3 separate regions of the Homo sapiens genome follow, and regions 2 and 3 are each linked to region 1. The links come from fine-mapping of genetic effects on gene expression. A gene starts in region 1. Each other region holds a variant in brackets. All regions are shown on one strand. Distances are between the middles of the regions. Region 1 holds the start of MAFF (MAF bZIP transcription factor F). Region 2 overlaps PLA2G6 (phospholipase A2 group VI). Region 3 holds the start of TMEM184B-AS1 (TMEM184B antisense RNA 1).

The links.
Region 2: its variant is fine-mapped to the expression of MAFF in whole blood (TOPMed, PIP 0.94).
Region 3: its variant is fine-mapped to the expression of MAFF in blood mononuclear cells (TOPMed, PIP 0.92).

The regions. Positions count from the first base shown.
Region 1 is chr22:38,197,274-38,207,857 of GRCh38, forward strand. It overlaps MAFF (MAF bZIP transcription factor F), which reads left to right and starts at 4,721. Exons shown (of 3, transcript NM_012323.4): 1 at 4,721-4,939. RefSeq lists enhancers at 1,809-1,858, 7,243-7,387, 10,227-10,371, silencers at 4,548-4,877, 4,938-5,377, 6,228-6,307, 7,528-7,577 and cis regulatory regions at 7,315, 10,292-10,309.
Region 2 is chr22:38,139,386-38,149,969 of GRCh38, forward strand. PLA2G6 (phospholipase A2 group VI) reads right to left here. Exons shown (of 17, transcript NM_003560.4): 3 at 6,053-6,268; 4 at 3,720-3,903; 5 at 597-784. Among named protein-coding and RNA genes, the nearest start is that of BAIAP2L2, 34 kb to the left of the region's middle. RefSeq lists an enhancer at 3,364-3,864. The variant G/A (reference allele first, on the strand shown) is at 4,995.
Region 3 is chr22:38,225,323-38,235,906 of GRCh38, forward strand. It overlaps TMEM184B (transmembrane protein 184B), which reads right to left. Exons shown (of 9, transcript NM_012264.5): 4 at 5,922-6,012; 5 at 5,347-5,422; 6 at 1,457-1,548; 7 at 102-271. It overlaps TMEM184B-AS1 (TMEM184B antisense RNA 1), which reads left to right and starts at 5,998. Exons shown (of 2, transcript NR_186700.1): 1 at 5,998-6,093; 2 at 6,726-6,926. It also overlaps the pseudogene RN7SL704P. RefSeq lists an enhancer at 3,662-4,392. The variant G/T (reference allele first, on the strand shown) is at 5,228.

The DNA of each region.
Region 1 (10,584 bases):
AGAGTCCCTACTTTCAAAAAACAATTTTTTTTTTGAGACAGTCTCGCTCTGTCGCCCAGGCTGGAGTGCAATGGCGTGATCTCGGCTCACTGCAACCTCTGCCTCCCAGGTTCAAGCAATTCTCCTGCCTCAGCCTCCTGAGTAGCTAGGATTATAGGCATGTGCCACAACTCCCGACTAATTTTTTTTTTTTTAATTAAGTAGAGACAGGGTTTTGCATGTTGGCCAGGCTGGTCTCAAACTCCTGACCTCAAGTGATCTGCCTGCCTTGGCGTCCCAACGTGCTGGGATTACACTGCGCCTGGCCAAATTTTCTTTTCTTATAAGGACACTGGTCAGATTGGATTAGGGCCTACCGTATATATTTTAATTTACTTATGCCTTTTAAAACTTTATCTCCAAATACAGTCACATTCTGAGATTTTTAGGCATTAGGACTTCAACATACACATTTTAACATTATGAAATTCCACCCATAACACTATCTATCTATATGTATTATTTTCAGAACCATGTCAGAGTAAATTGCAAACATGATGCCTTTTACCTCTAAATACTCTAGTGGGCCAGGCACGGTGGCTCACACCTGTAATCCCAGCTCTTCAGGAGGCCGAGGCAGACAGATGACCTGAGGTCAGGAGTTCAAGACTAGCCTGGCCAACATGGTGAAACCCCCGTCTCTACAAAAATACAAAATTTAGCCGGGCATGATGGTGGGTGCCTGTAATCCCAGCTACTCAGGAGGCTGAGGCAGGAGAATCACTTGAACCCAGGAGGCAGAGGTTGCAGTGAGCCAAGGTCGCACCATTGCACTCCAGCCTGGGTGACAGAGCAAGACTCCATCTCAAAAAAATAAATAAATAAATAAATAAATAAATACTCCAGTGTATATTTCCTAAAATCAAGGACACATTCTCTTCTATGACCACAGGACAAGCATTGAAGCCAGGAAGTTGGGCATCCATGCAGTAATTACCTCATCTACAAACTCCGTGGCAATTTGCCCCTTACTGGTGATATTAACTTTGATCACTTAGCGAAGGTTGTGTCTGCCAAATTTCTCCACTGCAGAGTTATTATTTTTCCTTCCATAATTAATTATCATCTTGTGGGTAAATAACTTGAAACTATGTAAATACTTTCTCATCAAGCTTTCATATCCATTGGTGATTCTTGCTGCAACCCATGATTACTATGGTGGCTGCCTGATGGTCATTTCTTTTTTTTTTTTCTTCCTCTTCTTTTTTTAATAGAGACAAGATTTCGCCATATTGCCCAGGCTGGTCTCAAACTCCGGGCTCAAGTGATCCTCCTGCCTCGGTCTCCCAAAGTGCTGAGAATACAGGTGCGAGCCACCATGCCCAGCCTGAGCTCCCACTTTTAAATAGGACATTGCACCATGGCCCTTGATCTTGACCAGAAAGGGAGCTATGTCTATGGGAAGCAGTCCCTGCAGGGTGGATAATGAGGCACTGACCCCCTTGTTCTGGCAGGCTGGGGATGGGAGTAAAGGATCTAGGCAGCATGGTGTCCAGGAGTGTTGTTCAGGTCCACTGAGAATTCACTCACTAGCTGAGCACCTACAGTGTTCCAGGTGTGGCCCCAGCTCTTGAGAAGCTCATAAAAAAGGGAGTAGATTGGGAGGCTGAGGCAGAAGGAAGGCTTGAGGCCAAGGGTTCAAGATCAACCTATGCAATATGGTGAGACCTCCATCTCTGCAAAAAATAGAAAAATTATCCAGGCACAGTGATGCACACTTGTAGTCCCAACTACTCGGGAGGCTGAGGTGAGAGGATCGCTTGAGCCCAGAAGTTCAAGGCTGCAGTGAGCTATGATCATGCCACTGCACTCCAGCCTGGGCAACAGGGCAAGACCCTGTTTTGTTTTGTTTTGGTTTTGGTTTTAAAGGGGGTGGGGGGTAGAGAAAATAGACAACTCACCATTGTGCAGTTTCTAAAACTGAGAACTTTCCTACCCCAAAGGTTAACCTAGGTGGCTCTTTCTGCTATGCACATGGAGAGGACTGAGCAATTGGTTTTTAGAGATCCTTTTGAGTGCTAGACAAAGCTGCCTCAACATTTGGTCACTTGGGAAACTAGTGGGCCAATTTGCATACCAAACCCACAGCCTGTGGGAGGGAACGGAAAGAAGCCATAGTGTCTGGTGGACCAAGGCACAGAGGCAGGAAAGCAAGACAAGGGCGCTGAAATCGAATTTGCTACATCAAGGAAAGTGGGGGGCTGGGCGCGGTGGCTCACGCGTGTAATCCCAGCACTTTGGGAGGCCGAGGCGGGTGGATCACGAGGTCAGGAGATCGACACCACGGTGAAACCCCGTCTCTACTAAAAATACAAAAAAAAAAAATTAGGAGGGCGCGGTGGCGGGCGCCTGTAGTCCCAGCTACTCGGGAGGCTGAGGCTGGAGAATGGCGTGAACCCGGGAGGTGGAGCTTGCAGTGAGCTGAGATCGCGCCACTGCACTCCAGCCTGGGGCAACACAGCGAGACTCCGGCTCAAAAAAAAAAAAAAAAAAAGGAAAGTGGGGATCCTTACTGGTGATCAGGGTGCCACATAGAGGCCTACCCATTTGGAGAGGCCCTATGCCCTCCACAGTGGAGTAAGTGCCATGATGTCGGCTTCACAGGAGGGACTGTGGGAGCGATGGAATTTCAGGCAGTGGGAACATCATGAGCAAAGGAAAGCAGGGGATGAACAGCAACATCCACCCCGCACGTGGCCTCCAAAGCCATCTCTTTTGGGTGGGGCTTCCCACCACGGCGCACACCCCTCATGTTTATGTGGCCCTCCTCCCCTGGTTGCGATGTACCCCCAAACATCTGGGCCAGGAATCATTCAGACCTGGATACCAATTCCAGTGCTTGTACTTCCTAGCTGAGTGAATTTAGAAAGTCACCTTCACCTCTCTGAGCCTCCAGTCATGTATTCCTTCAACATGTATTTACTGTGGGCCTACTATGTGCCAAGCACTACTCCAGGCACTGGGCAGGCAGTGGTGAACAAGATAAGCCTGGCCAGGCGCAGTGGCTCATGTCTGCAATCCCAACACTTTGGGAGGCCGAGGTGGGTGGCCTGAGGTCAGGGGTTCAAAACCAGCCTGGCTGGGCATGGTGACTCACCTGTAGTCCAGCTACTGGGGGGCTGAATTCCTTGAACCTGGGAGGCGGAGGTTGCAGTGAGCCAAGATTATGCCACTGCACTCCAGCCTGGGCAACAGAGTGAGACTCTGTCTCAAAAAAAAAAAAAGAAAAAGAAAAAGAAGCAAGGCCTGCCTTCATAAAACATACATTCTGGTTGGGGAAGACAGACAATAACCAGCACTCACATACATAAATGATGAAACACCCTACAGAAGTATTAAGATAATATAAGAACAAATTTCAAGGCTGGGTGCGGTGGCTTGCGCCTGTAATCCCATTACTTTGGGAGGCCAGCGTGGGTGGATTGCCTGAGTCCAGGAGTTTGAGACCAGTTTGGGCAACATGGCAAAACCCTGTCTCTACAAAAAAAAAAAAAAAAAAAAAAAAAAAAAAATACAAAAAATGAACCTAGCATGGTGGTGTGTGCTTATGGTCCCAGCTACTTGGGAGGCTAAGGTGGGAGAATGGCTGGAGTCCAGGAGAAGGAGGTTGCAGTGAGCCGAGATTGTGCCACTGCACTCCAGCCTGGGTGACAGAGTGAGACCCTGTCTCGAAAAAAAAAAAAAAATTCAGAGGTGAAGACTGCTTTAACCAGGGTGGTCAGGAAATGTCTCTCTGAGGCAGTGACATCCGGGCTGACGTGAAAGATGAGAAAGAGTCAGGCAAGTGAACAGAAGACCAGACAGCCAGTGCCAAGGGCCTGTCGCAGGAATGAGCTTGGTATGTTTGGGGGACAGAAAGAAGGGCACTGTGGCCGAAGAGCAGTGGATGAGGAGAGAGTGGCCAAAGAAGGTGTGTAAACAACCTGAGCTTTGTTTTGAGAAGAACATTGGCTGGTATAGAAAGAAAGACTTTGGAGGCAAAGTAGGGAGCCTCGGAGGCTGCTGCCATTGTCCGGGTAAGCTGATGGTGCCGAGACCAGGTGCCATGACTGGAGGTGGTGAGAAATGGTCCTATGCAGGAGACCTGGAGACACCGCTAGCTTGAGTCCTGAGGTGGGGAGGAAGGGAGAGGGAGGGATGGAGCCAGGCTCCAAGGTTTTGGCTTGAGCAGCTGAGATGGGGTGGCAAGGGAGCAGAGGTAGGGCTGACGATCAGGAGCGGGTTTTTGGGCCGAGTCCTCTGCAGTGCCCATCTGACACCCACTGGATGCGCAGAGTGGGCAGCTGGCTATGAGTCTGGAACTCAGAGAAGCTGTTCGCTCCGGAAATACAAACCTGGGGCTCATAGCCATATAAATGTCATTTAAAGCCACGGGACTGGATGAGATCATTAAGGCAGAAGGTCTAGGTCGAAAGAAGAGGGCCAGGACCACTACCTGTAAAATGAGCCAATGACACCTACACCCACGGGGCTCTCGCGAGGTGTCACGTGAACGCACCCAGCGAGCCCTGGAACCAGGCAGAGAATCGCGGCAGCCCCGGGGGCGGGGCTTCCAGGGGGCGGGGTCATACGGGGGCGGGGCCGAGGGACCAAGCGGCCGCTCCTGGCCGGAGGGCGGCCGGGTCGGTGACGTCACCGCATGACTGGGTTTTTATGAATGAAAGGAATCCTGTGAGTGAGTAATTCCGGGAAGCTCGCCTTACAACTCCGCGCGGCCTCGGCCCCCTGCGCCGCCCGCCCCACAACAAAACTCAGCGCAGCGCTCCCGGGCGCCCGGTTCAGAGCGACCTGCGGCTCAGAGCGGAGGGGAGACTGACCGGAGCGCGGATCGGGACAGCGGCCGGGACAGCGGCGAGACGCGCGTGTGTGAGCGCGCCGGACCAAGCGGGCCCAGAAGCGGGTGAGGAACGCGGGACCAGGAGGACGGTGCGCGGGACCCCAAGGCGGCAGGGTTTCTGCGTCCCGGGATGCGCCTGGGGTGGGCGCCCGGGCCCGATCCGTCGGGGCTCCCGGAGCTCCATCGCCCGGACGGCTCGGGGCGGGGAGAAGGGAGCGGCCGTCCCGGGGACGCCGAGGACGGGGCCGAGGCCAGCTCGGGGGAGTGGGGGTGGAGACGGGGCCCCTTCCCGGGGCGCGGGCGGGTAGGCGGCGGCGCCGGGAGGAAGGGGCAGCGCAGGCCGGCGATCTCCGCGTCCGCCCGGCGGGGGCGGGGGCGCTGTGCTCCTACGTGACTCGGTGGGAACAGGCCCTGGCCCGGCGCCCGCGGGCGGTGCGTGCGCGGTTTGTTTACGTCCGAGGGCGGGCGTGTGTTCCCTGGCGGGCGGCCTGGGTATCCTGCCCGGTGCGTGCGTGCGCTGTGTACCTCGGGGGCGTGTGTGCGTGTGTTGTGCTTGTGTGTGCGTGTCCGCGCGCGCGCTCCCTGGGGCCTGTACACCAGCAGTGTGTACCTCGGAGAGGGCGTGCCCTGGGCCGGCCACCGGAGTAAACGCGGAACAAGGACCCGAGCGAAGGAAGCGGACCCGTGCGTCTTCGCACGGGGTCTGGGAATTCTGGCCCGGGCCGCCCCAGTCCTACTACCCGGGGCTGTCCGTCCCCGGCTCTCCCCGGAGTTTCCCAGGGCCTCCGCCACGTGACCCCAGTGTTTGTCTCCCGCCCAGAGCCCGCGCCCGCAGCCACAGGGTGGGGCAAGGTATCAAAGACCCCACCCAGCTGAGCTAGGAGTGAGGGATGTGAGCCACCCCCGCTTGGCACCCCGGTGGATCTGGTAACAAAGTGAGTTGGAGCCCAGGTTCTTGTCCCCAGATTTTGGGGCTTCCTGGGGAGGGAAGAACCAAGGGACTCTCGTTCGTCCCCAGGGTTGCCCATCCCCTCAGTCCCATGAGAACAGGAAGGGCCAGAAAACCTTGACTGCAAGGGTGCGGCGCAGGGAGAGGACCACAGGCTTTTAGCTAGTCCGGGTTCTGGAGGCTGTACCTGCTAGGTCGTGGAGGATGGGGCGGAGCCGGTTTCCGCTCTCCTGGTAGTTTCAGTTCACAAGTGGGACTGGTGAGACTAGACTGACCTACAGCTGGACGCCGGAAGCTAGCTGAGGCTCTGAGCCAGCCGACAGACCCCGAGTGCCCTCACCCTGGGCCAGGCAGGGTCAGTAGGCATTGGGGATAGAACTCTGACTGCACGGAGGGTTAATGAGTGAGGGGTGGGGCCTGACCTAGCCGCCACCCACCCACTCACCCAATAGCCCTGCAGAAAGCACCTGTTTGTCGTAGCCGCCTGCAGGATGGGCTGGGGGCTAGAGATTCCTTGGTCTTAATCCACCTTCCCCCTCCACCCACCCACCCACGGTCTATGGAATTGTGGGAGGGGAGCAATTGAACTTGCTAGGGTGAGGAACCAATGATCTTTTGACTTTGGATCTTTGAACCCTGGGTGAGCTCTGCTACAGCAGCCCGGACCCTCAGTATTCCCATCTACCACTGGGAACTAGGTAACAGCCAGGATGGCAGGATGGTGGGTAGAAGGGGGAAGCTCTGGAAGTCTGTGCAGACAGCGTATTTTCCAGGTGAATTGTGGAAGAGAAAGCAGGGCTGACAGCCCCATGCCAGGAGCTGGGGGTACCCAAGAGTAGGTGGGGTTTGAGTCAGGAGGGTTGGGGCCAGGAGCACAGGAACCAGACAGGCCCACCCTCAAAGCTGGGCAGGAAACATTACAAAGTAGGGCCTGGGGTCAGGGGATGAGGGGAAGTGGCTGGTTGACTCAGTCCCAGATGGAAAGTTAGCACTGAGAAGTTTAACTTCCCATTGAATCACCCCTGGGCCCTGCATTGCCATTGGGCCCTTGTCCTGGACCAGATGCCAGGGATGAGATGAACAGACCAGATCCAGAGACTGCCCTCTGGGAGCTTATAGCTCAGCAGCGGACACAAACTTGAAAAAAGATCCACAGAAGTAAATGCAAAACACAGCTTAGATGGGTGATGTGAGGGAGAAGTCACTGTGGTTTGAAAGTACATAACAGCGCTCTGACTTAGCCAGGGCAATCAAGGAAGGCTTCCCTGGGGAGGTGACTAGTGTGCTGAGTCTGATAGAGTGGTGGTTGTCTGTGAAGCCCTTGAAGGCAGGAGCTGTGATTCACTTCAGGGTCTCCAGGGCCCAGCACAGAGCCTGGAACATAGTAGGTGCTTCTTGGATGTTTGCTGATTGAATGAATGAGCCCTGGATCCCTGCCCTCTAAGAGCTCCACAACACATGGAGAAAAAGGCCTGGGAACCCCAGAGAAACAGGAAGCCAGGGCAGGGGCTGGGGGAATCTTGAAGCAGTCTCCCAAAAGCGAGCAAATCCTTCAGGACTCAGGCAACTTCCTCCCTCACACACACAGGCATGCACTGCCCGCTTGTCCCTTTGGGAAACATTCAGGGATAGTAGAATTTGCTGTCTGTTCATTCATCTGTTAGCATACGATCCTGGGAGAGAGTGGACAGGAATACGGTTGAGGCCTGAGGACCCTACTGTGTTGGCTTGCGGGGAGGCTGGCATTGCAGGGTTTTGAAATGGGCCAAGCACGGACAGGCTCGTGGGTTTGTGTCAGTAGTGATTCCTCTGACAGCTCTTGGGGGAGGATCAATGATGGGGATTGGAGACGGAGGGCAAGGCAAGAGGCTGGTGAGCAGGCGGTTGTGGTCATGGTCCAGATGAAGGAGGAAGTGGTCTGTGGCTGTGCAGGTGGAGAAGAGGGCTAGTCTGATAGTCTGATAGTTTGTGTCTCATGCCCCCACCTCCAGGAAGCCTTCACCGCTTTCCTTTCCCTACCTCCATTCTGCTGGTGGTCTTGGAGCTCTGGGCCAGAATCTGAAACTCTAAACTCAGAGACAGTCATTGTTGGAAGGTACCTTAGGCTCGGAGGACGTTTGGCATAGTGGGAAAACTGAGGCCCAGAGAGAGGGAGTGCCGTACCTGAGGCCACACAGCGAGTGTGAGAGGGTACCTGAACTGGGGCTGGAACCCCAGGCCGTTGCTTCTCTGTGGTGCTTGGTTCTTCCAGCCTTGCTCCCCTTCCAGCAGGGAGGAGGCTCCAGCAGTGCTGACTGCCAAGAGCTAGGAAAACACATTTTTTCCCTGTCCTCACAGAGCGAGCAGAATGGCTCAGCAGCCAGAAAGGAGCCCATGCCAGCGGGTGGGCCTTCTACAGGATGTCTCTGGAGTGGACTGGTGGGGCCAGGGAGGGGGACGTTGGAGGGTTGTGGCTGCTGACTGGACAAGGCAGTTGTCAGTCCCTCAAGAGTCACCTCTCTCCTTATGCCTCCAGAAGACGTCATGAACCTGCAGACCCTGGAGGTCAGCTCTGCTGGCTTCCAAGGGAAGAAGCCAGGGAGAGGTGGTGGTGGCCGACATAGAAGACAGAGGACCCCTGGGTTCCAGTCCGCCACGGCTACCAAACAGTGGCTTGGTTGCCTCAGGTGCTGAACAGGGGATCGGATCAGCTACTATTTCTCAGGCCCAGGGTCAGCCAGCCTGGCAAAGGCAGAGGACCCAGGCCCCTTGGCAGCCCCTGGCCTGGGGTTGGCAGCGGAAAGCCTGAGGTTACCAGAAAGTTCCCCCTTCTTGTGACTTTCCCCCTGTGATTGCCTGACTGCTGAGCTAGGACATTCCTGGGCAAACGTGGGTGCCTCAGCTGACATCCAGGATGCGGTTGAGGGGGCTGAGGCTCGGACAGGAGGGCATGGAGGAGTGGGGGAAGAGCAGGTTCAAAACCTTCCTAGCACCTGAGGGTATTTACAATCACAGCCAGCTTCCGCTATTATCAAGGATAGGGAATGGCTGATGGTTCCATCTCTCAGGCCTGGTCTGGAGGCAGTGTTGAGGATTCTAGGCTGTGTCCAAGCTCAGGAGAAAACAGTTCTGTGCTGAGAAAGACTCAGGGGCTGTGGCCTGCCTCACTGGGAATTGGTGCTGTGTGTGGTTAGTGATGTCTCTGTTGCTTGTGGATAGTGGGATGATGGTGAGATGAGGTGATCTTTCTTGCCTATGCCTCCTTTTTTTTTTTTTTTTTTTTTGATGGAGTCTCGCTCTGTTGCCCAGGCTGGAGTCCAGTGGCTTGTTCTCAGCTCACTGAAACCTCCACCTCCCGGGTTCATGCAATTCTTCTGCCTCAGCCTCCCAAGTAGCTGGGACTATAGGTGTGCGCCACCACACCTGGCTAATTTTTGCATTTTTTTTTTTCTTTAGTAGAGACAGGATTTCACCATGTTGGCCAGGCCGTTCTTGAACTCCTGGCCTCAGATGATCTGCCCACCTTGGCCTCCCAAAGTGCTGGGATTACAGGCGTGAGCCACCACGCCTGGCCTTGCCTAAGCCTTTATATTTTACACACCAAGATTATTGTGATTATTCCCACTTAGCAAGGAATCCAGGACTCAGGAAAAATGACTTGTGCATGAGGCCAGACTGTGCCTCTGAGGTTCTGTATCAGCCGCAACACCCAAAGGGCAGTTGATTAACTTGCGTGGGGAGAGGCTTCCCTTCTCCCATTGGGTCTTTCTGTGTAGCTCAGGTGGCCAAGCATCACTGCACGTGCCAGCTCCCCAAACGGCTGGTAAGGGGGCCTGGATACTTAACTGTAACTTGCAAATCGTATCCCTAGCGGGCCCAACACAAATCCTGGAGAATCAGAGCTGGGGTGGCCTTGGAAACTGGCAAGTCCAGCTTCATCTTCACAGGGCTAGGGAAACAGGGCCCAGGGAGGTCGCCCTGCCAGGGCCACACAGGGAGGAGGTGTGTGGCTCCATGTGGCCTCAGGCCTGAATTCTATTATTATTATTATTATTATTTTTGAGATGGAGTCTTGCTCTGTCACCCAGGCTGGAGTGCAGTCGCGTAATCTCGGCTCACTGCAACCTCTGCCTCCCAGGTTCTAAGCGATTCTCCTGCCTCAGCCTCCTGAGTAGTTGGGACTACAGGTGTGTGCCACCAGGCCCAGCTAATTTTTTGTATTTTTAGTACAGACAGGGTTTCACTGTGTTAGCCATGATGGTCTCAGTCTCCTGACCTCATGATCCGCCCACCTCGGCCTCCCAAAGTGCTGGGATTACAGGCATGAGCCACCTTGCTTGGCCATCTTTTTTTTTTTTTTTTTTTTTTTTTTTTTTTTTTTGAGACAGAGTCTCGCTCTGTCACCCAGGCTGGAGTGCAGTGGCGCGATCTCAGCTCACTGCAAGCTCCATCTCCGGGTTCACGCCATTCTCCTGCCTCAGCCTCCCCAGTAGCTGGGACTACAGGCGCCCACCACCACACCCGGCTAATTTTTTTTTTAAGAGGCGGGGTCTTGCTTTGTCACCCAGGGAGTGCAGTGGCGGGATCACAGCTCACTGCCGCCTTGAATTCCTGGGCTCAATGGTTCCTCCTGCCTCAGCCTCCTGAGTAGCTGGGGCTATAGGTGTGCACCACTGCACCCGGCTAATCTTTTTATTTTTTGGAGATGGAGTCTAGCCATCTTGCCCAGGTTGGTCTTGAACTCTCAGGCCTGAATTCTACCCCATGCTGGCTGTATGAG
Region 2 (10,584 bases), 58 kb before region 1:
AGGAATTAAGGTACATTAAATAAATTTATTTTTATTTATTTATTTATTTATTTATTTATTTATTTTTTGAGACAGTTTCGCTCTTATTGCCCAGGCTGGAGTGCAACGGTGCGATCTCGGCTCACTGCAACCTCCGCCTCCCGGGTTCAACCGATTCTCCTGCCTCAGCCTTCCAAGTAGCTGGGATTACAGGCATGTGTCACCACGCCCAGCTAATTTTGTATTTTTTAGTAGAGATGGGGTTTCTTCATGTTGGTCAGGCTGGTCTCGAACTCCCGACCTCAGGTGATCTGCCCACCTCAGCCTCCCAAAGTGTTGGGATTACAGGCGTGAGACACCGCGCCCAGCCAGAAAAATTTTAAAGTCTCCTCCTTGCACAGCTGAACTTGTGAACCGAGATTCCTACCCATGATACAATGATGGAGCACCTTCTTTGGGCCAGGCGGGGCCTAATGAGGCTTGTGAACCCGGGGCCTCTGCTCTGAGGCTGGAGATGCTAAGATCTATGGTGGATACTGCTTGCCTCAGGCACGGGACAGGTGACAGGAGAGCTGGAGCCCAGCAGGCCAGCAGATGGGGAGGGGAGGAGGTCTTACCCCTTCTGAGAGAACTTCATGGCCGAGTGGATGGGGTAGCCGTTGGGGCCCATGATGTTGCACCGAGCATTGCACAGCAGCAGCACGCGGACCATCTCCTGCTTCCCCAGCTGGCAGGCCAGGTGCAGCGGGGTCAGCCCTTGGTTATTCACCTGGTTCAGGCCAGCCACTGCGTTCCTTCCAAGGAGCTGATGAAAGAGGAAGGGAAGTTTGACTCCATAGGATGCTGATAAGAACGTAAAGAGGCCGGGCGCAGTGGCTCATGCCTGTAATCCTAGCACTTTGGGAGGCCAAGGTGGGTGGATCACCTGAGGTCAAGAGTTTGAGACCAGCCTGGCCAACATGGTGAAATGTCGTCTCTTCTAACGATACAAAAATTAGCCGGGCATGGTGGCAGGCACCTGTAATCCCAGCTACTCAGGAACCTGAGGAAAGAGAATCGCTTGAACCCAGGAGGCAGAGGTTGCAGTGAGCTGAGATTGCATCATTGCACTCTAGCCTGGGCAATAGAGCAAAAACTCTGTCTAAAAAAAAAGAACGTAAAGAGAAGCACCAGGAAAGCCAAGTGCCAGTGTGGATGGGAGGGAAGGGGTCGACCTGGCATGACTGTGGCTCACATGAAACATTTCTGAGTCAAGGAACTTAAAAGGTAGCTGTATCTCAGGATGGGCACTGGGGGTCCAGGTGGGAATGATTCTTGCTTTTCATTCTGTCCTGACTGATTTTTTTCTACATGCAGGTACTATGTTTTCAATGAAAGAACAGCAGTATTAAAAAGAGAGCCAGGGGCCAGGCGCAGTGGCTCATGCTTGTAATTCCAACACACTGGGAGGTGAGAGGATCACTTGAGACCAAGAGTGTGATACCAGCCTCGGCAACATAGGGAGACCCCATCTTTACCAAAAAAATTTTAAAAATTAGCTGGCGTGGCCTGGGTGTGGTGGCTCACGCCTGTAATCCCAGCACTTTGGGAGGCCGAGGCAGGCGGATCACAAGGTCAGGAGACCAAGACCATCCTGGCGAACACGGTGAAACCCTGTCTCTACTAAAAATACAAAAAAAATTAGCCGGGTGTGGTGGCGGGCGCCTGTAGTCCCAGCTACTCTGGAGGCTGAGGCAGGAGGATGGCATGAACCCGGGAGGCAGAGCTTGCAGTGAGCCAAGATCGCGCCACTGCACTCCAGCCTGGGCGACAGAGCAAGACTCCGTCTCAAAAAAAAAAAAAATTAGCCCATGTGGTGGCACGAGCCTGTAGTCCCAGCTGCTCAGGAGGCTGAGGTGGGAGGATCACCTGAGTCCAGGAGGTTGAGGCTGCAGTGAGCCACAATCACACCACTGCACTCCAGCCTGGGCGACAGAGCTAGATGCTGTCTCAAAAAAAAGAAAGTGCTAGGAGGGTTTTACTGTCTCACTTTTGGCTCAGTGCTGTCCCCATGAGGTTCATTACAACCACAGTGTACCCATGTGACACCAGGGTCACCTCACAGCAGTCCCACTGGACCTGAAGGCAGGCCAGAGACACAGCAGGAAGAGCAAAGGGCTGGCATCGAGGCCAATGTAAGGTCAAGCCCCACTCTCTCAGCTTTGTGGCCCTCCCTGGGCACGCTTCTTAATTAACAACACTGAACCTCAGTTTCTTCGGAGAGGAAAGGGGAATAATGACCTCCACCCCATGAGTGTATTCTAAGAATTAACTGGAACACATACAACACTCAGTTCAAGGTCAGGCACCAATCAGCACCGGATAAAGGACAGCTGCAGTCGTGCATGACTATCGAGAAGCGGGTGTGCACACCCCCGCATGGAGGCAGGGTCTGCGCGGCACCATGCTGGGTGCGCAGAGGATTCTCGGTGAAAGTGGAGTTCAACAGTGGGTGGAGAATTCCCTTCCCTGAGAGCAAGAAGCATAAGATATGAATCCACATTTTCTGGGCCGGGCACAGTGGCTCACACCTGTAATCCCGGCATTTTGGGAGGCTGAGGCAGGTGGATCACTTAAGGCCAGGAGTTGGAGACCAGCCTGGGCAACATGGCAAAACCCCATCCCTACTAAAAATACGGAAACTACCCAGGCATGGTGGCACATGCCTGTAATCCCAGCTACTCAGGAAGCTGAGGCACGAGCATCACTTCAACCCAGGAGGTGGAGGTTGCAGTGAGCCGAGATCGCACCACTGCACTCTAGCCTGGGAGACATAGGGAAACTCTGTCTCAAAAAAAAAAAAAAAAAAAAAAAAAAAGGAATCCACATTTTCTGGTATAACGTAGTTGCATTCTGATGCCAAGGCAGAGAGAACATGATCTTTAGAAGAATTTTCTAATTCTAGACAATAAAACATAATCCAACATCCTGCCTTTTCTGTTCAATCTAATATATGAAATAGCTATTTAATAGTATCACCCCATCTGCTTGCCCACAATTAAAAAATCACATCTTTTGCCCAGGTAATCAAAAACGTTAACAGGAGGGCCTCTGGCACAAATGCCTACAGGAACTGGAGACAGTTTGGTTTGCTTGGTTTGAATTCCTGTAAAATAGGGTTGTCCAATATTTTGGCCTCCCTGGGCCACATCAGAAGAATTGTCTTGGGTCACACATAAAATACATGAACGCTAACAACAGCTGATCTAAAAAAAAGGTCCATGCATGGATCTCATAATGTTTTAAGAAAGTTTGTGAATTTGTGTTGGGCCACATTCAAAGCCGTCCTGGGCTGCATGCAGCCTGCAGGGCCACAGATTGGACAAGCTTGCAAAAGGTTAAGCCCAGGTCCCGCTGGCCCACGAGCCCCTCCAGGCAGGCATCTGGCTCACAGTTTGTGCTCAGGAAAAGTGGAACTGAACTAACTGACTGGAGCTGGGCCTTTTTTGGGGTTTATTTTGCTGGGTTGGAGGCCGTCCCCAGGTTTATCAAGCAAAGAGACTGAGGACGTGGCTCCTGGAAAAGGGCTGGGAGGGAAGAGCCAGGGAGGGGTCTGCACCCTCCATGAAGGAGCTCAGGCCTCAAGGACCAATGGGGGACAGTGAGAGGCCTGAGAGTGACACCTGAGCCTAGGGGCCCAAAGGGAACCGTGGACACCGGGAGGTATCAGTACCAGTCACCCTGCCCCTCCCCCTGCTCACCTGCAGCACCTGAGAATTGTCACCCTGGACAGCATAATGGAAGACGGTCTCTCCCTTGTAGTCGGTGACATCCATCTGAGTGTGGCAGTACTGCACCAGCTCCACCAGGATCTCCCCATCACCCTTGCGGCAGGCCAGGTGCAGGGGTGTGCAGCCCTCCTCGTTCTCCGCGCAATTGGCACAGCTGCAGGAGAGGGCCAGGGTGAGCAGAGGTGAGCAGGTGTGGTACAAGGTGGCAGGGGGACCTAAGTGCACATGCAGGGAAGTGCACTCGGAAACTCGGACTTTCTGGTTTATTTGAGCTCAAGAGCATTCCCGCCACTCAGCTAGTTGGGCTGATTTGAATGTAATTATATCTGATGTGACCTGTATCAGGTTTCTGTTCAGTTTGCTCACTCGTACAAGAGATGGGCCCCAGGGCCACACCAGCAGGAAGTGGGCAGGGTGGTGGCACAGGAAAGGGTCACAGAACACGGATATCTCACTAGCCTCAGGCAATTCACTTAACCTTTCTGGGCGTCAATATCCTTATCGACACAAGCTGCTGTGCCTGCCCCAGGAAATGGACAGAGTGATGGTGAGATGAGACAGTGCTGTCCAAAAGCACGCCTGGAAACTAAAGTGCAGTGAGGGTTTTTGTTTTGTTTTGTTTTTTTGAGGTGGAGTTTCACTCTTGTTGCCCAGGCTGTAATGCAGTGACACAATCTCGGCTCACTGCAACCTCCGCCTCTGGGTTCAAGCAATTCTCCTGCCTCAGCCTCCCGAGTAGCTGGGATTACAGGCGTGCGCCACCACGCCTTGCTAATTTTTTGTATTTTTAGTAGAGACGGGGTTTCACCACGTTGGCCAGGCTGGTCTCAAACTCCTGACCTCAAGTGATACACCCGCCTCGGCCTCACAAAGTGCTGGGATTACAGGTGTGAGCCACCACGCCCGGCCAGCAGTGAGGTTTTGAGTTCTGGGCCTGGGAGCTTAACTGAGCTATCTAGGATAGAGACTCAGAGGAGGTGTGGCTACCTCTGCACAAGATGGCCAACTGGTGCCCTGTGCAAGGGTGGGGACAGTGCCCTCACCAGGGGCAACAGCTGCTCCATCTGCTGGCTGAATGGATTCACAAAAGGAGGCCTTCAGCTTCCAGAAGAGCAGCCTGGGCAGACACCAAGGATCCAAGCCCCTCTTTCACCCTCTCTGGCTGAGTGACCTGCACAAGTCCTGTTAGCTCTCTCTAGAATGATGATACCTGGGCCGGGCATGGTGGCTCACGCCTGTAATCCC[G/A]GCACTTTGGGAGGCCAAGGAGGGCAGATCACCTGAGGTTAGGAGTTCGAGACCAACCTGGCCAACATGGTGAAACCCCGTCTCTACTAAAAAACACAAAAAAATTAGCCGGGCGTGGTGGCGGGCGCCTGTAGTCCCAGCTACGCGGGAGGCTGAGGCAGGAGAATGGCGTGAACCCGGGAGGCGGAGCTTGCAGTGAGCCGAGATCGCGCCACTGCACTCCAGCCTGGGCGACAGAGCGAGACTCCGTCTCAAAAAAAAAAAAAAAAAAAAAAAAAATTACCCGGGCATGATGGCACATTACTGTAATCCCAGCTATTCCGGAGGCTGAGGCAGGAGAATCACCTGAACCCAGGAGGCAGAGGGTGCAGTGAGCCAAGATCGCGCCACTGCACTCCAGCCTGGGTGACAGAATAAGACTCCGTCTCAAAATAAAATAACATAACGTAACATAAAATAAAATAAAATAAAATAAAATAAAATAAAATAAAATAAAGTAAAATAAAATGACGATACCTTGTGGGGGTTGGGAAAATTCAATTTCATGGTGGGTAGAAATCAGCTCCCACAGACCTGGCACCTGGTGAGCACTCCGGACTCTGGAAACATTACATTGTCCTTCTTACATTTTAATCTGGTAGCAACGCAGCACCTTTTTTTTTTTTTTTTTTTTTTTCCTAGAGACAAGGTCTCATTCTGTCACCCAGGCTGAAGTGCAGTGGTGCAATCATAGCTCACTGTAAACTCTAACTCCTGGGCTCAAGCAATCCTCCTGCCTCAGCATCCCAAGTAGCTAGGAGTATAGACACATGCTAATTTTTTAATTTTTTCGTAGAGACAAGGTCTTGCTATTTTGCCAGGCTGGTCTTGAACTCCTAGTCTCAAGTGATCCTCCCTCCTCAGCCTCCCAAAGTGCTGGGACTGCGTTAGTGAGCGACCATGCCAGGCCCTGCTCCTTTTTAAGTCAAACTATGGAGGGGAACCGAGGCCTGCGGCCCCCACTGCCCACACAAGCAGGTACACACACGTTGTCCAAATGGTCTTGTTCCCTTGCTCACCTGATGATACGGCTGTGATGGAAGCACTCGCGGATCCCTAGCTCCACAGCCAGGTGGGCCACTGACCAGCTGGGGTGGTTACGGATGAGGTCGGTCAGGTGCTGCAGGACCTCAGTGTGCAGGACCTGAGGGGAGCTCTCATAGAAGGGTAGCAGCTGGGAAGAATACTGATGGAAATTCACTAGGGCGTCAGCCTCCAACTCCAGCTGGAAGAGTCTGTAGAGCCAGGACAGAGGAGCAAGACCCGAAATGAGTAAGGCGGGACCCTCGGCCCACATCCCTGCTGGAATCAGAAGGTCCCCAGGCTGCGGCCTGGCCAGCTCCAGCCCGACTCCCCTCCCAAGCAAACACACACACACACACACACACACACACACACACACACACACACACACACCCCTATACACATGTAAATGACATAATGGCGTTTAGGTTAGACTTTCTTTGTTTTTTAGAGACAAGGTCTTGCTCTGTAACCCAGGCTGGGGTGCGGTGGTGTGATCATGACTCACTGCATCTTCGAATTCCTGGGCTGAAGGGATCCTCCTACCTTAGTTCCTGAGTAGCTGGGATTACAGGCATGCACCACCATGCCCAGCTAATTTTTTTTTTTTTTGAGATAGAGTCTCATTTTGTCACCCAGGCTGGAGTGCAGTGTTGTAATCTCACCTCACTGCGACCTTCACCTCCCGGGTTCAAGCAATTCTCCTACCTCAGTCTCCAGAGTAGCTGGGATTAAAGGCGTGTGCTGCCACACCTGGCTAATTTTTTGTGTTTTTAGTAGAGATGGGGTTTGGCCATGTTGCCCAGGCTGGTCTCGAACTCCTGAGCTCAGGCAATCCACCCCCCTCAGCCTCTCAAAGTGCTAGGATTTCAGGCACTAGCCACCGTGAGCCACTGTGCCTGGCCTAATTTTTTTTTATTTTTGTTGACAGGGGGTCTTGCTATGTTGCCCAGGCTGGTCTTGAACTCCTGGCCTCAAGTGTTCCTCCTGCCTCAGCCTCCAAAAGTACTGGGATTACAGGTGTGAGCCACTATGCTTGTCTAGATTTTCCTTTATTTTGAAAAACTTTCCTTTTCTTTGGTAATATCATTTATTATTTTTATATTTTATTTTACCACAGCCCTGCCATATCCACTTTCTAATTTCATTGCCACATGTGAGAGCTCCAGCCTCGAGTACTTGGCCCCTCTTCATAGTAGGAACTAAGTAAGTATTGTTTAACCTAAATGTACAGCAACAAAATATTATATAAATTATGGTATAACTATGTAATAAACTATTATGCAGTCATTAAAATGAGATATTTAAAAAAAGGGAAACTTTTCTTTTTCTTTTCTTTTCTTTTTTTTTTTTTTGAGATGGAGTTTCATTCTTGTTGCCCAGGCTGGAGTACAATGGCACGATCTCGGCTCACTGCAGCCTCCATCTCCCAGGTTCAAGTGATTCTCCTGCCTCAGCCTCCTGAGTAGCTGGGATTACAGGCACCCGCCACCATGCCCGGCTAATTTTTTGTATTTTTAGAAGAGACAGAGTTTTGTCATGTTGGCCAGGCTGATCTTAAACTCCTGGCCTCAGGTGACCTGCCTGCCTGGGCCTCCCAAAGTGCTAGGATTACAGGCATGAGCCACTGCGCCCGGCCAGCTTTGTTCATTTTTAAGTGTTGAGGTTGAGTCCAAGTTTTGCTACTAAGGTGCTGTGTGATCTTGGGAAATCCTTTTCCCTCTCTGAGCCCCATTTGAAACATGAGACTAACTGTACCTGTCCTACCTACCTCCCAGAGGTGCTGTGAGGACAGATGAAAAACCACTATAAAAGCACTTTCAAAACCATAACCATTATATGTCAGTGATGGTTACTTAAAGTTCTGACCAGGGCTTTTAACATACCAAAAGGTTTTGTCTTGCATACCTCTACAAGCGCAGCAGCCAGCCAGAGTCTAGTGAAGGCAGTGCCCAGAGAGTGTTGGCTCAACGGGACCAGCCTGTTGTTCCACAGAGAGTGCGTTGATTAACAGTTAACTACTGGGCATGTGATCTGTGCCAAATGGAGGGGTCAATTAATGAACAATTGCATAAAATGCTCTGCCCTCCTGAAGCCTTTTTTTTTTTTTTTTTTTTGAGACAGAGTCTCACTCTGTTACCCAGGCTGGAGTGCAGTGGCGCGATCTCAGCTCACTGCAACCTCTGCCCCCTGGGTTCAAGTGATTCTCCTGCAATTCTCCTGCTTCAGCCTCCCTAGTAGCTGGGATTACAGGCGCTTGCTACCACGCCCAGCTAATTTTTGTATTTTTAGTAGGCACAGGGTTTCGCCATGTTGGCCAGGCTGGTCTCGAACTCCTCACCTCAAGTGATCCACCCATCTTGGTCTCCCAAAGTGCTGGGATTACAGGCGTGAGCCACTGTGCTTGGCCCGAGCCTATGTTATTATGGAGGAGATCAACAAAATGACTAAAGTAAAAACATAGAATAAGGAAGTACATTAAATAAACTATAACGTAATCAGTGTTACAGAAACAACAAAAACCACAACAAAGATAGGGAAGGAGGAGGCGGAAGGAAGCCATTCCTCATTGCCCTTGGCTGGGTTTTTCCTTCATCTCACCAGCCTCTCAACATCAGGGTACTCCACATCAAGTGTTGCCGATATGTCAGAGAATGACAACTGAAAACTCATCACTGGAATTAGCATCACGGAGGCATGCACGACCTTGACAACATTACTTTTAGTGGAATGGAGGGAACCAAGGCCTGATTAAAGTGGGTTTAAGGACACAATGTGAGAATCTGAAGATTGCAAAGATAGATATTTTTGAGGAGTTTTGCTGTGGTGAGGAGCAAATAAAGGAAAGGATAGCGAATGGGGAAAGTGTAATCAGGCATTTGAATGCTGACGGGAACGATGATTCTCTCTCAGAACTTCCACTTTCCATTAACAGCAGACTAGGGAATGTGAAACAGACCACCTACTGAGGACAGCCAGAAATGCTGGACAAATTATTAAAAAACATCTGCTGGCAGGCACTGGATACCTCAAAAGACACTGATGACTCACCAGGCTGGAAGGAATGATGGAAACCCAGGAATTGCAGTGTTCAGGTGGCTGTTACTGGAGAGGATGGGCAGACGAGCAGCACCAGTAACAGCCTCATGGGGCTCAGGACACAGGGACTGGAGCCCAGGCGTCTGCCAAGAGGAGAGCCCTGATGAACATCTCTTACTTTGGGTTAGGGTCCTAAAGAACTACGTAGCCTAGGAATAAGGGTGAGCCATACACAGACACGCTCTCACAGAGACCACAGTTCAGCCTCAAGTGATTTCAGTTCCAGAAACTAGACTGAGGTTATCCTAGTTGCAATGGGAGAAGCAAAAATAAATTCATTCTTTGTAAGGAAACATCAAACTAGGCTCTAGATTATTTCTTTTTTTTTTTTTTTTTTTTTTTTTGAGACGGAGTCTCGCTCTGTCACCCAGGCTGGAGTGCAGTGGCGTGATCTCGGCTCACTGCAACCTCTGCCTCCTGGTTCAAGTGATTCTCCTGCCTCAGCCTCCCGAGTAGCAGGGATTACAGGAACGTGCCACCATGCTCAGCTAATTTTTTGTATTTTTAGTAGAGATGGGGTTTCACCATGTTAGCCAGGATGGTCTTGATCTCCTGATCTCGTGATCCACCTGCCTCAGCCTCCCAAAGTGCTGGGATTACAGGCATGAGCCACTGCGCCCGGCCATTCCAGATTATTTCTACGAGCATACTTGCAAATACAATGACCAACACATAATCAAAACTCACCAGGCATATGTGGAGATAAGACATGAAAGAAAACCAACAGAAACAATATACAAAAGAAACATATCTGTGAGGGGACTGTAAATATTTAAGTTATCCAAAATAGACTTTAAAGTAACTGTGATAACATTCGAGAGGTTAAAAAAGGAAATTTAGAATTTTGGTGAAGAGTTTTGAATGATCAAAAAAGCATCAAATGGAAATTACAAAATTAAAAAATATAATCAGGAAAGAGTAAACAGAATAAAGCATGGAGAGACAGAAGAATACAAAATATAGTAGAGTACATAAGAGACACAGACTATCTAATAAAAGATCTAGCATACATACATAAGTGGAGGATCAGAGGCAGAGTAGAAAAAGAATCAAATGGAAGCTACATTTGAAAAGTTAATGTCTGCAAACTTTCCAAAACTGATTTTTAAAAAACATTATAGGTCAGGCACAGTGGCTCATACCTGTAATCCCACCACTTTGGGAGGCCAAGGTGGGTGGATCACCTGAGGTCAGGAATTCCAGACTAGCCATGGCGAAACCCCATGTCTACTAAAAATATAAAAATTAGCCGGGCGTGGCGGTGGGTGCCTATAATCCCAGCTACTTGGGAGGCTAAGGCAGGGGAATTGCTTGAACCAGCGGGGCGGAGGTTGCAGTGAGCCGAGATCACGCTACTTCACTCCAGCTTAGGCAAAAGAGTGAAACTCCATCTCTGATCACGCTACTTCACTCCAGCTTAGGCAAAAGA
Region 3 (10,584 bases), 28 kb after region 1:
ACAGGCCCTACAGGCACCAGGGACCATAAGCAGAAGGGGCAGCAGGAAGCGCAGAGGACAGGGTGGCATGGGCAGCCTCCAGGTGCTGGGAGGGGGCTCACCTTGCCAGAAGGAAAGAAAGATGACGGACTTGACCATGAAGAACTTGAGGACGGGGCTGTAGGGGCTGAGCAGCTCCCGGGTGGCGAAGTAGAAGAGGAAGAGGGCGTAGAGGGCCAGGCTGACGGAGATGTTGTAGATGATGGTCACGTAGAGGTAGCCACTGGTGACGCTGCGGGACGGGGAGCATTTTCTGGCTGGGACAGACCCTTGGAGGGAAGGGGCTCTCCTCGACTGCACCACACACAGTCCCCATGGCTCTCAGCCCCACACCTCCAGCAGAGCTCAACGAGCCACTGAAGGGGTCAGAATGGGTGATCAAAGCGACAGACAGGGGTGGGGGTACATGGGGTGCGCCTGCAGGCCAGACCAGCTCTACTGCCTCTGCGTGGCTCGTGGACTTGTCTAAGCCCTGGTGCCCACACTCCTAACGTTGGACACCAGTGTGGAAGCCAGGGCCGGGCCCGAGGCCATAGCCTGACACTCAGATAACAGGCGTCAAAATAGGTGACGCTGCTCAGCTCTGCTGCCTTTTCACTCGGTCGGCTGCATCCCCCTGACCTCCTTTTGCCCACCTGCCCTGGCAGGGCTGTTACACAGTTCACAGACAGTGTGTGCCGAGAGCTTGAAAGCACAGGGCTAGACACATGGTCACTTTTTTTTTTTTTTTTTTTAGATATGGAGTTTTGTTCTTGTCACCCAGGCTAGAGTGCAATGGCGTGATCTTGGCTCACCGCAACCTCTGCCTCCTGGGTTCAAGCGATTCTCCTGCCTCAGCCTCCCGAGTAGCTGGGATTATAGGCACCCGTCACCACGCCCGGTTAATTTTTTGTATTTTTAGTAGTGATGGGGTTTCACCATGTTGGCCAGGCTGGTCTTGAACTCCTGACCTCAGGTGATCTACCCGCGTTGGCCTCCCAAAGTGCTAGGATTACAGGCGTGAACCACTGTGCCCAGCCACGGGGTCACTTTCACTAAGCCCAGAATGAAATGGGTGTGGACAATTTACACAGCACGGGCTTTGTATCTGTGGACTTGAGCCGACCTCTTGGGGCTCTGACCCTCTCGCTCCCTGCCTCAGCAGTGGTCACTGTCCCTTTGTGGCCCATCCCTTCATGGTACCACTCTGCAGCCTGGACATGAACGTGACTGCTGCCAATGGCTCACTCCGGGGCTGGCAGCGGGGCCAACTGCAAGGGTGTCCACTGCTGGGCTCAGACTTCAGGGGGGTTGTGAGCACCAGACACCCAGGAAGGTCATGGCTGTGCGGCCACTCTGGCTGCCCCCTTCCCTGAGCCAAGGCACCAGCCTGCGCCAACACTCCTCCCACACACCCCGGGGAGCACCCGCTGCTTACTCAAAGTCCCCATCCCGGTACTTGCCGAAGGCCTGGAGGACCACAGTGCTGACCGCCATGAGTGGCTTCACCACACAGAACTGCAGGGTGGCCTGTTGGGGGGAAAAGGAGGTTGAGTGTGGAGGAGGAGCACAGAAGGCATGAAGCAAGCCCTGCCTCTGGCAGACGGAACTGTACCGGATGGAGGGACAGAGAGGATGAAGGAGACGGAGAGGACGGAGGGATGGAGGGACGGAGGGGATGGAGGGACGAAGGGATGGAGGGGATGGAAGGATAGAGGAGATGGAGGAGATGGGGGGTGGCTACGTGTCCTGCTCCCAGGGGACTGCTGTCTGCGCGGGGCGGGGGGCAGAACATATAGGAGATGCAGCCAGCGCAATGCCGTATGTGATATGAGCATGTGGAGGAAGGGAGGGAGGAAGGGAGGAATGGTGTGGCAGGGCACGATGGAGGCGGGAGACAGGAGATGCACACAAGGAAGCTTCTCGAGCCAGGACCATCAGGTGGGTGCCGGAGATGAGAGGCTCGACAGGCAGAGGGGGCAGCTTGCACCAAGGCCCCGAGGCAGAGGGTGGACAGGTGCAAGGGGCTGCGCACTAGAGAGGTGGCTGAGGAGATGGGCAGGGCCAGGTCCTGGAGACCTTGGTGCCCGGGGCAAGGCTAGGGCCCTGCTCAAGGAACCAGCCACCGGGAAGCCGGCGCAGGTGAGGGCCTCCTCCCATCCTCCATGTCCACCCCCGATCTGGTTCCTAGCCCTACTCTCTGGGCCTGGGTCCAGGGTTTCTGGTCAGCAGAGGTCACTCTGGGGATGGAGGTGACCTGCAGGAGCCCAGAGCACGTGGACTCCAGAGTCTCAAAATCTGAGTTTGAACTCTGGGGACAGCTTGGGCAGACACTTGGCCTCTGAGCACAGACTCCCTGATGAAAAGGATGTAGTCACTCCCCACACCACAGGGCCACTGCTGCGGGGATGGCACAGCCAGGAAGCGCAGCATCTTCTCGGGAGTCTCCCGCCTCTGTACATGCACTAACGGCGCCTGCTAGCTGGCTGAGCCACGGAAAGAGTTCCTCAGCCAGGTTTTCCCGATTCCCTACGGGCGGACCCATGGTGCCCATAACATCACTAGTATCACCATTATCTAGAAAGCAAATAAATCTAAGCCCTAAGACCCCTTCTGAGGAGCTGGGGGAGGTTAAATCCAATCCAAAAGGCTCAACTAGTGTAGCTGCAAAGAGGACGAGGAGCCTGGAGTGGGAACCGTGATCCGTGAAACCTGCAGCTTCTGCCCCAACTGGGGATCTGAGTGGGTCTTGCAGGGGAGCCCCAGGCAGCCCACACCATGGGGCTGCCATACGGAGAGGCCCGCGTGATGGGGCAGACGTGCAGTCCCACTCTCAGAAAGCCCCACAGAACGTCCCTGGCCCTGTCATCCCGCCTAGAGAAGTGGGACTGGCACCTTCTGGGGAAAAGGGAAGAACGGCAGTTTGCATGAGTTCCAGTTATGAGCCTAGCAACAGGCTGGTGTTTCCCTGGGTCAGCTCACCTGGTACTCATGACAGCCCCCTGACGTGGGTGCTGTCATTATCCCCATGGTACAGGTGAGGAAACTGAGGCAGAGAGAAGCTGAAGCAGCAGCAGCAGCAGCAGCAGAGCCCAGGCCAGCAGGCCCCAGAATCATCACCTGACCATACCCTGGACCAGTCAGCAGTTCCCAGGCTGGGCTGGACATCAGAACCCCCAGGGAGCTTTAGACATGTGCCAGGTTCCAGGGCTCCATTCCAGAACTTCTCCTATGGGCTAGGGTAGTGGGTGGTTGATCTGGGAATCTCTACTTTAAGTAGGGAATCTCTCCAGAAGGTCTGGATATTGAGCACTGGCCCTGAGGAGTCAAAGGCCTGTCTCTGTGCCTCTAGGACAAAGCTGTGGGGTGTGCTCTCTCGCCCTGGTAAAGAAAGGAAGAGGCCTCTTTTGTTCTCTTTCTTCTTATATCTCTCCCTGCCACCGCCAGGAACAAGAACAGAACATCTGAGCCCACAGGGCTGGGGAATAATTTCTAACAAGGCCACACTAGCTAACAATCATGAAATCAAAATTTTGTAGACAATATAATCATCAAACAAGGCAGTGAGTCACAGCTGGCCGGAACCTGGGTGGCTGCACCAACTGGTAAACAATGGCTCTCAATGCCCCACCCTGAACCCAGGATAGTTTTAACTCTTTCCCTGCAGGTCCAGTGGTGAGATTCTGAATTTAGGAACATGCTAGGGAAGGAAGGTCTGGAAGCAGAACTGGAGACTTGGCATGTTCAGGTGGAGGCTTTGTGGGTGTGCCCGCCCTGTGGCCTGGGCCCTGCACAGAAGGGAGCAGCAGGCCCCGCCCTCCAGGGCCATCGTGACTTGGCTGTGGGTTTCATGTACTTTCGTGACTACTCTTGGCGAAGCTGGAGGGGCTGACATGACAGAGCCCCTACGGAGCCCCAGAGGAGACTAACGCAAGGTCATGAAGAGTGGGCGTGATCCCCTCAGACTCTGCCTCCCTGAACAGGAGGCCGTGGGCTCCACCACGCCGGGCTGAAAGCTCTACATCCATGACCTCATCTGATCCTCACAACCATCTCTAGAGAGGAGTATCATTACACTCATTTTACAGTGGAGGAAACTAAAGCTCAGAGAGGGTAAGCCAATTATCCAAGGTCACAGAGTCAGAGGAAAAGCTGGAAATCAGGCTCAGATGGTCAGACACCCAGGCCCACACACTGAGCGACCCCACCACACTGCCCCCACCCAGGCTACTCTAGACCACAGGGAGGTCAGCCCAGGAAGCTAGAGCAGCTGGATTGCCAAGGCTACTCTAGACCACAGGGAGGTCAGCCCAGGAAGCTAGAGTGGCTGGATTGCCAAGGCTACTCTAGACCACAGGGAGGCCAGCCCAGGAAGCTAGAGCGGCTGGATTGCCAAGGCTACTCTAGACCACAGGGAGGTCAGCCCAGGAAGCTAGAGCGGCTGGATTGCCAAGGCTACTCTAGACCACAGGGAGGTCAGCCCAGGAAGCTAGAGCGGCTGGATTGCCAAGGCTACTCTAGACCACAGGGAGGTCAGCCCAGGAAGCTAGAGCGGCTGGATTGCCAAGGCTACTCTAGACCACAGGGAGGCCAGCCCAGGAAGCTAGAGCGGCTGGATTGCCAAGGCTACTCTAGACCACAGGGAGGTCAGCCCAGGAAGCTAGAGCGGCTGGATTGCCAAGGCTACTCTAGACCACAGGGAGGCCAGCCCAGGAAGCTAGAGCGGCTGGATTGCCAAGGCTACTCTAGACCACAGGGAGGTCAGCCCAGGAAGCTAGAGCGGCTGGATTGCCAAGGCTACTCTAGACCACAGGGAGGCCAGCCCAGGAAGCTAGAGCGGCTGGACTGCCAAGGCTACTCTAGACCACAGGGAAGTCAGCCCAGGAAGCTAGAGCGGCTGGATTGCCAACCAGGAAATGCAGGGAGAGACGAAGAGACGGCAGAGGCCTGTTCTGGCGTGTGTCTTTAATGCCAAAACCCTCCTGCCCCCTAGCTGCAGCTGATGAGAAGTTTTCAAATGGAGGTTCTAGAATCCCCACGCACTTCTTCTGATTTTCACACACACTGAGACTTGGTCACACGAGCAAGAGTCTGGGATCAGCTCTTGCCCACAGTGCAACAGACACTCCCAGGATGTCGGTCGCTGCCCCTCCAAGCACACCCTGCTAATGTGGTATCTGCCTAACAGCTTCGGGGGGTGGGTGCTGGG[G/T]GCCTGGGGTGCCTCATAGGAAAGGGGACCTCTAAGGTGGGGCCCAGGGCAGCCCACGGCAGGGCCTCCCAGACCCCGCCCTGCTCCTCCTGAGCTAGGCAGCTGCTGGGGGCACACACCTGTTTGCAGAACCTCAGAAATCCGATGGAATAAGTCTTTCCCCAGAGGCAGCAGGTGCCATACATACAGCTGGACCTGGAAGAGACAAGCATAGCAGGCAGTGGCAGTGAGTGAAGAGCCAGGACTTGGGAACAGTGGGGTGGGGAAGGCCGCCCTCCCACCCATCCAGACGAGCTGGGGCACACATTCTGGGCAGACTTTGAACCCGAGGCCAAGCACAGGGAGAGGCATGGCAGGGCATCCGCACATGCCATAGGCGGAGGGACACAGGGCTGCACTGGCCCTGGGGTGACAAACCAACTTGGAGAGCTCTGAATGTAAAAACTGCAGGAGGCAGAAACAGACAGGAAAGCACTAAGACTGAGACAGGAAGAGACAGAGAGAGAAAGACTGAGCCGCAGAGGCCCTCCTAAAACGCCCAGAAGAATGGCGTTGCTCAGGAAATGTGGTGAGGCACAGCAGGTCAAGGTCACGGGCAGACATGGTCTGTGTCCAGCTGGTGCCAGGACGGCTCGAGGTACACCAGGCCCAGGAAACGGGGTGGTTTAGGGCTCTGGGAAGACTCCATACTCACTCAATGGGTTTTCCTCTGATCTCCGACATGATGGAACTTTCTCCTCCTAGGTACTCATAGCACAGGCTCAGGAAATTATAGATGACCAAGGCTGCGAAGAGAGTGTCCAGGAGAAACCAGTCAAATCAGCAGAATGGGTCCGCAGATGCTGGGATTCTAAACAGCAATGGAGGTGAAAGAGCCACAGCTGTGTGTGGCAACAGGGAGGAGGCTGGGGGACATAAGGTTGTGCAAAAGGAGCCCGTCAAGAACACAGACATCTGACCTCCCACTCCTAAGTTCAAAACCCGGCACACCTAAATTATCTTATCCCGGGATGCACCCCTGCACTGGCGTAATACTATGAAGGGACTGTCGTGAGTTCAGGGTTATGTGGGGAGGCCAGAGGAGGCTGAGGTAAGGGTGGGTACTCAGGAGGTTTGGGAGGGCTGGCAGTGTCGACCCTGGGGCGAAACAGTATTGCCTTTATTAGTTTTTCCGGGCGCAGTGGCATGCGCCTGTGGTCCCAGCTACTGCTGCGGCAGGAGGACGTCTTGAGTCTGGGAGTTCTGGGCTGTAGTGTGCTACACTGATCTGGTGTCTGCACCAAGTCTGGCAGCAGTACGGTGACCTCCTGGGAGTGGGGGATCACCAGGTTGCCGAAGGAGGGGTGAACCAGCCCAGGTTGGAAACAGAGCAAGTCAAACTCCAGAGTGGGATCGCACCTCTGAACAGCCACTGCACTCCAGCCTGGGCAACATAGCGAGACCTCATCTCTAATGTATTTATAAATAAATATTTGTCTTACATACTTGTGTGTTACAGGTCACAATTTTATAAGATAACAACAAAACAGTCTCTGTGAAAATCTTGGGAGAAATTCCAAGCAGGAGTGAGAGGGAAGAACCTTCATCCAGTCAACAACCTGTAGCGGTATCCGGAATACGCACAGCACTATGAGCTACAACAAAGCACACGGCAGCACACAGAACACAGTAAAAACCTTGGGAAGCTTGGGCTGCTCATTCTAAATTGGGACTCGGCTCAACATCTCCACAAAGACCCAAAATTTGCCACCGGGAGTGATGGCACAGCAAGTCTGCTGTAAATGTTGATGCTATAAATACAGCAACACGCTGTAACGGGTCTCCTGGTCAGGTGGTTCCTTCTGGGTCAGCAAAATGAAGGCTGCTGCCTGCAGGGTGCTAGAGGCAAATGGACATGCCAGGATGGAGGAGAGTGTGGAGAAGGCGGGGGAAGGGGTGCAGCAGACGGTACCCAAAATGAAAGAACGCAAGAGGAAGAGCCAGGGTGAGGACATGGGAATGAGGATGGGCATCCAGTAAAGGCACAAGGCCAAGGGGAGGGGCAGAACAGGGTCAGAACAGGTCGAGGGAGCCACGGTGGCCCTCCAGCCAGAGGGCTTCTTCTCATCTGACCCCGCCAGCCCCTGCAGTACAGAGTCCTTTTAGGCTCCCTGGTGCCGCCCAGCTTGGCACTTGATCTTTCAATGGGTGACCTGGTCCCTGCCCAAGCTCCCGCCACTCCCGAGCAGCACTAATGCTGCACTTCTCCCCAGAGCAGGTTCTCTTATCCTTCGGTGCTTCTGCACTCCCAGATCCCAGAGGTTCTAGCACCCTTCCCGCTGTACTCTCAGGATCCATCAACCCCAGCTGGGATGGCACCCAGTGTGACAAGTCCCCGGTGACCATCGTGGAGGTGAGTGCCCTCCTACCCACGGAACCTGATTTGCAGACACTTCCCACCCTGTGTCACAATGACTGGTCTCCCCCTCTCGCCTTCCTCAGGACACAGGTGCCACTCATGGCACACACGGGGCACACCACAACAGTTTCACTGACTGAACTGGAGCGTGGAAAGCCCTGGTGATGTTTTTTAGGCAAAGCTGGCCTTCAGCGATTTGGAAAGGAACACATTTGCGGCATTTTATGCTACTCACGGTTGCCCTAATCCATTAAGGGCTCCCATCTCCAGGTGGCATCCCCATGTATATGTCCCCCAGCACTGACCACGCCTTGTTGTGACTGTCCCTTCACCCTTCACACACATACAGCAGAGGTATGCGATGTGTGTGAGCCTCTTTGGGTTCAGTTTCCTCATCTATCAAAGGGGATCACAGGAGCACCAACTTGGCAGGTGGCTGTGAGGCGTGAGCATGAAAGTGTTCAGAAGTGTGTCCGGGGCTCACTGCGCTGGGTGTTGGCTGTCACGACCATTACCGTCTATCTGCTGCCTGCAGGGCCAGGAGCCCCTAGACAGGGCTGAGGGCTGTGTGTACTGCCTGCCTGTGCTGGAGGCAGCTCAGGATGTCTCAGGACAGACAAGTCTCCACCAATCTCCAGATGACTCTTCACCAGCAAGAACTATGGGGCAAAGGGAAAGGGGTGGGCATTAAGCCAAACCTGATGTCAGCCTGCCAGTAACCTCTGTTCAAAACCTCACAAGGCCAAGCACAATGACCGTGTCCATTCTAAGCCGGGTCCAGCTATATCATGATGGTTGTATTTTTTTTTGTTGTTTTTGTTTTTTGTTTTTGCTTTTTTTGAGACAGAGTCTCGCTCTATCCCCTAGGCTGGAGTGCAGTGGCACGATCTTGGCTCACTGCAACCTCCACCTCTAGGGTTCAAGTGGTTCTCCTGTCTCAGCCTCTGGAGTAACTGGGATTACAGGCGCACACCACCACACCCAGCTAATTTTGTATTTGTAGTACAGACAGGGTTTTACCATGTTGGCCAGGGTGGTCTTGAACTCCTGACCTCAGGTGATCCGCCCACCTCGGCCTCCCAAAGTGCTGAGATGACAGGCGTGAGCCACCGCGCCCGGCCGACGGTTGCATTTTCTAGACTGCCACACCTCGTGATGCTGACACCCCTCCTCTGAGAGGTGGGGTCTTGTTCCCTCCCTTTGTATCTGGTGGCCCTGAGTAACCACAGCCAAAGTGATGTTTTGTGACATCTGATGTAGGGGTTGGAAGAGGCCTCTTTCCTCTGGCTCTTTTTCCCTTGAATGCCTGTCCTTGCACTCAGTCACCATGCAGCGGGGAAGCACGAGCTAGCCTTTGGAGACACCGCACAGAGAGGCTCATGTGAGGGAACCGAGGCCTTCAGCTGACAGCCAGCATCAACTGCCAGGCACACAAGGGAGTGAGCCTTCAGGTGATTTGCCCCAGCCTTCACGCTCTCCTGCCAAGGCCCAGAGGTCATGGAGCAGGGACAAACTATCTCCCCTGCACCCAGTCCAAATTCTTGACCTATAATATCCATGAAGAAACTGGATGGTTGTTTTACACTAGTGTGTTTTGGCAGTAGTTATTTGCACAGCCATGGTAAGTGGAATACAGATAAAACCATGACTGAAGCTCCTGGGACGTGCTGTGATCACTCACGCCTGCATGCAATGGTACATTCTGGTCCCTCTGCTCACCGCAGAGGCAGACCCCACTGAGATGCCGCCTCTTCTGTCCTGCACCCTGCTTACTTCACACATCACCCCTCTCTGGGCTCTGCCTGATCCCTCCGGCACAAAAGCAACATTAAGTAAGGTAAAGAGCCATGGGCCCTGGAGACAGCCTGCCTTGGTTGTGAACTGTGGTCCCACCTCTTAGGAGCTGTGTGGCCTCAGGCAAGTGTCTTAAGCGCTCCATGCCCGAATCTCCTCATCTGTAAGCGGGATAACTCCTCCCTTGGTGGGGTCAGGGGCTGTGAACGTGCAGAGCCTTAGATGAGCTGAGGGCACAGTCAAGAGTCCACGGTGTGTTACCTACTGCTTTTTCCAGACTGTAAACTCCTTGCAGGTAGAATGCAGTCCTACCTCCAATGACTACCGGAGGGCCTGGCAGCTACAAACATGTCATCAACACTGAAGGAAGGAATGGACAGACGTACATGGACCATCTCCCCAGGGGAGCCTGCCATGACAACAGGCTCAGGCAGGGCAGGAGGGGACACCCCACTCTCATTCCAACACTGGAGGAGCTCCTCTCAGAGGCTGGCCCCAAGACTATCAGCTTTCCAGTCTCGAACAACAAAACCCTCCAGGGAAGCCACAGGGGCCCCAGGCCCATAAGCCCTCTCTATCTGGAAGCTCCCTCCCGGGAGAGCCCATCCCTGCAGTCCTCTCCCAAGAAAGGCTTGGCATCTGGGCTCGTGTCCTTTCCTGCATCAAAACACATGTCAGCAGTCAGCACACTTTTGAATTACGTGGCCGAGGTCCCTCCGTAACCGGCTCTGCACACAACTGATCAGAATCATCAAATGTCATCATCCCTCTCAGTTCAAGATTCTTGACCTTTTGGAGGTGCTCTGGGGCCAGCCAGTCTGTAAAGTACCAATTTGCTGACAGTTCCCTTTAAACAATCATTAGTGAGTCGATAATGGACTCCCTAATTCTTGGAGAAGATGAGACAGAATCTCCTCAGACGTGACGCAACCGGCCCAAGCCTGGCCCCACTGACCAACTGGACACATCAGTCTCCCTCCTGGAAAGTACAGAGCCATGTGAAACACCACCTCCAACATCTTAGCAAAGGTGTTTAAAATGGAAAACTCAACACATCCCCTGGAAACAAATAAAAGATGCGTGCGTGGATGTAAGAAGAGCGGAGAAGCTGAGACGGGGCTGGAGGGAGGTGCTTGACCGGGAAGCTCACTGCCCACCGCCCTTC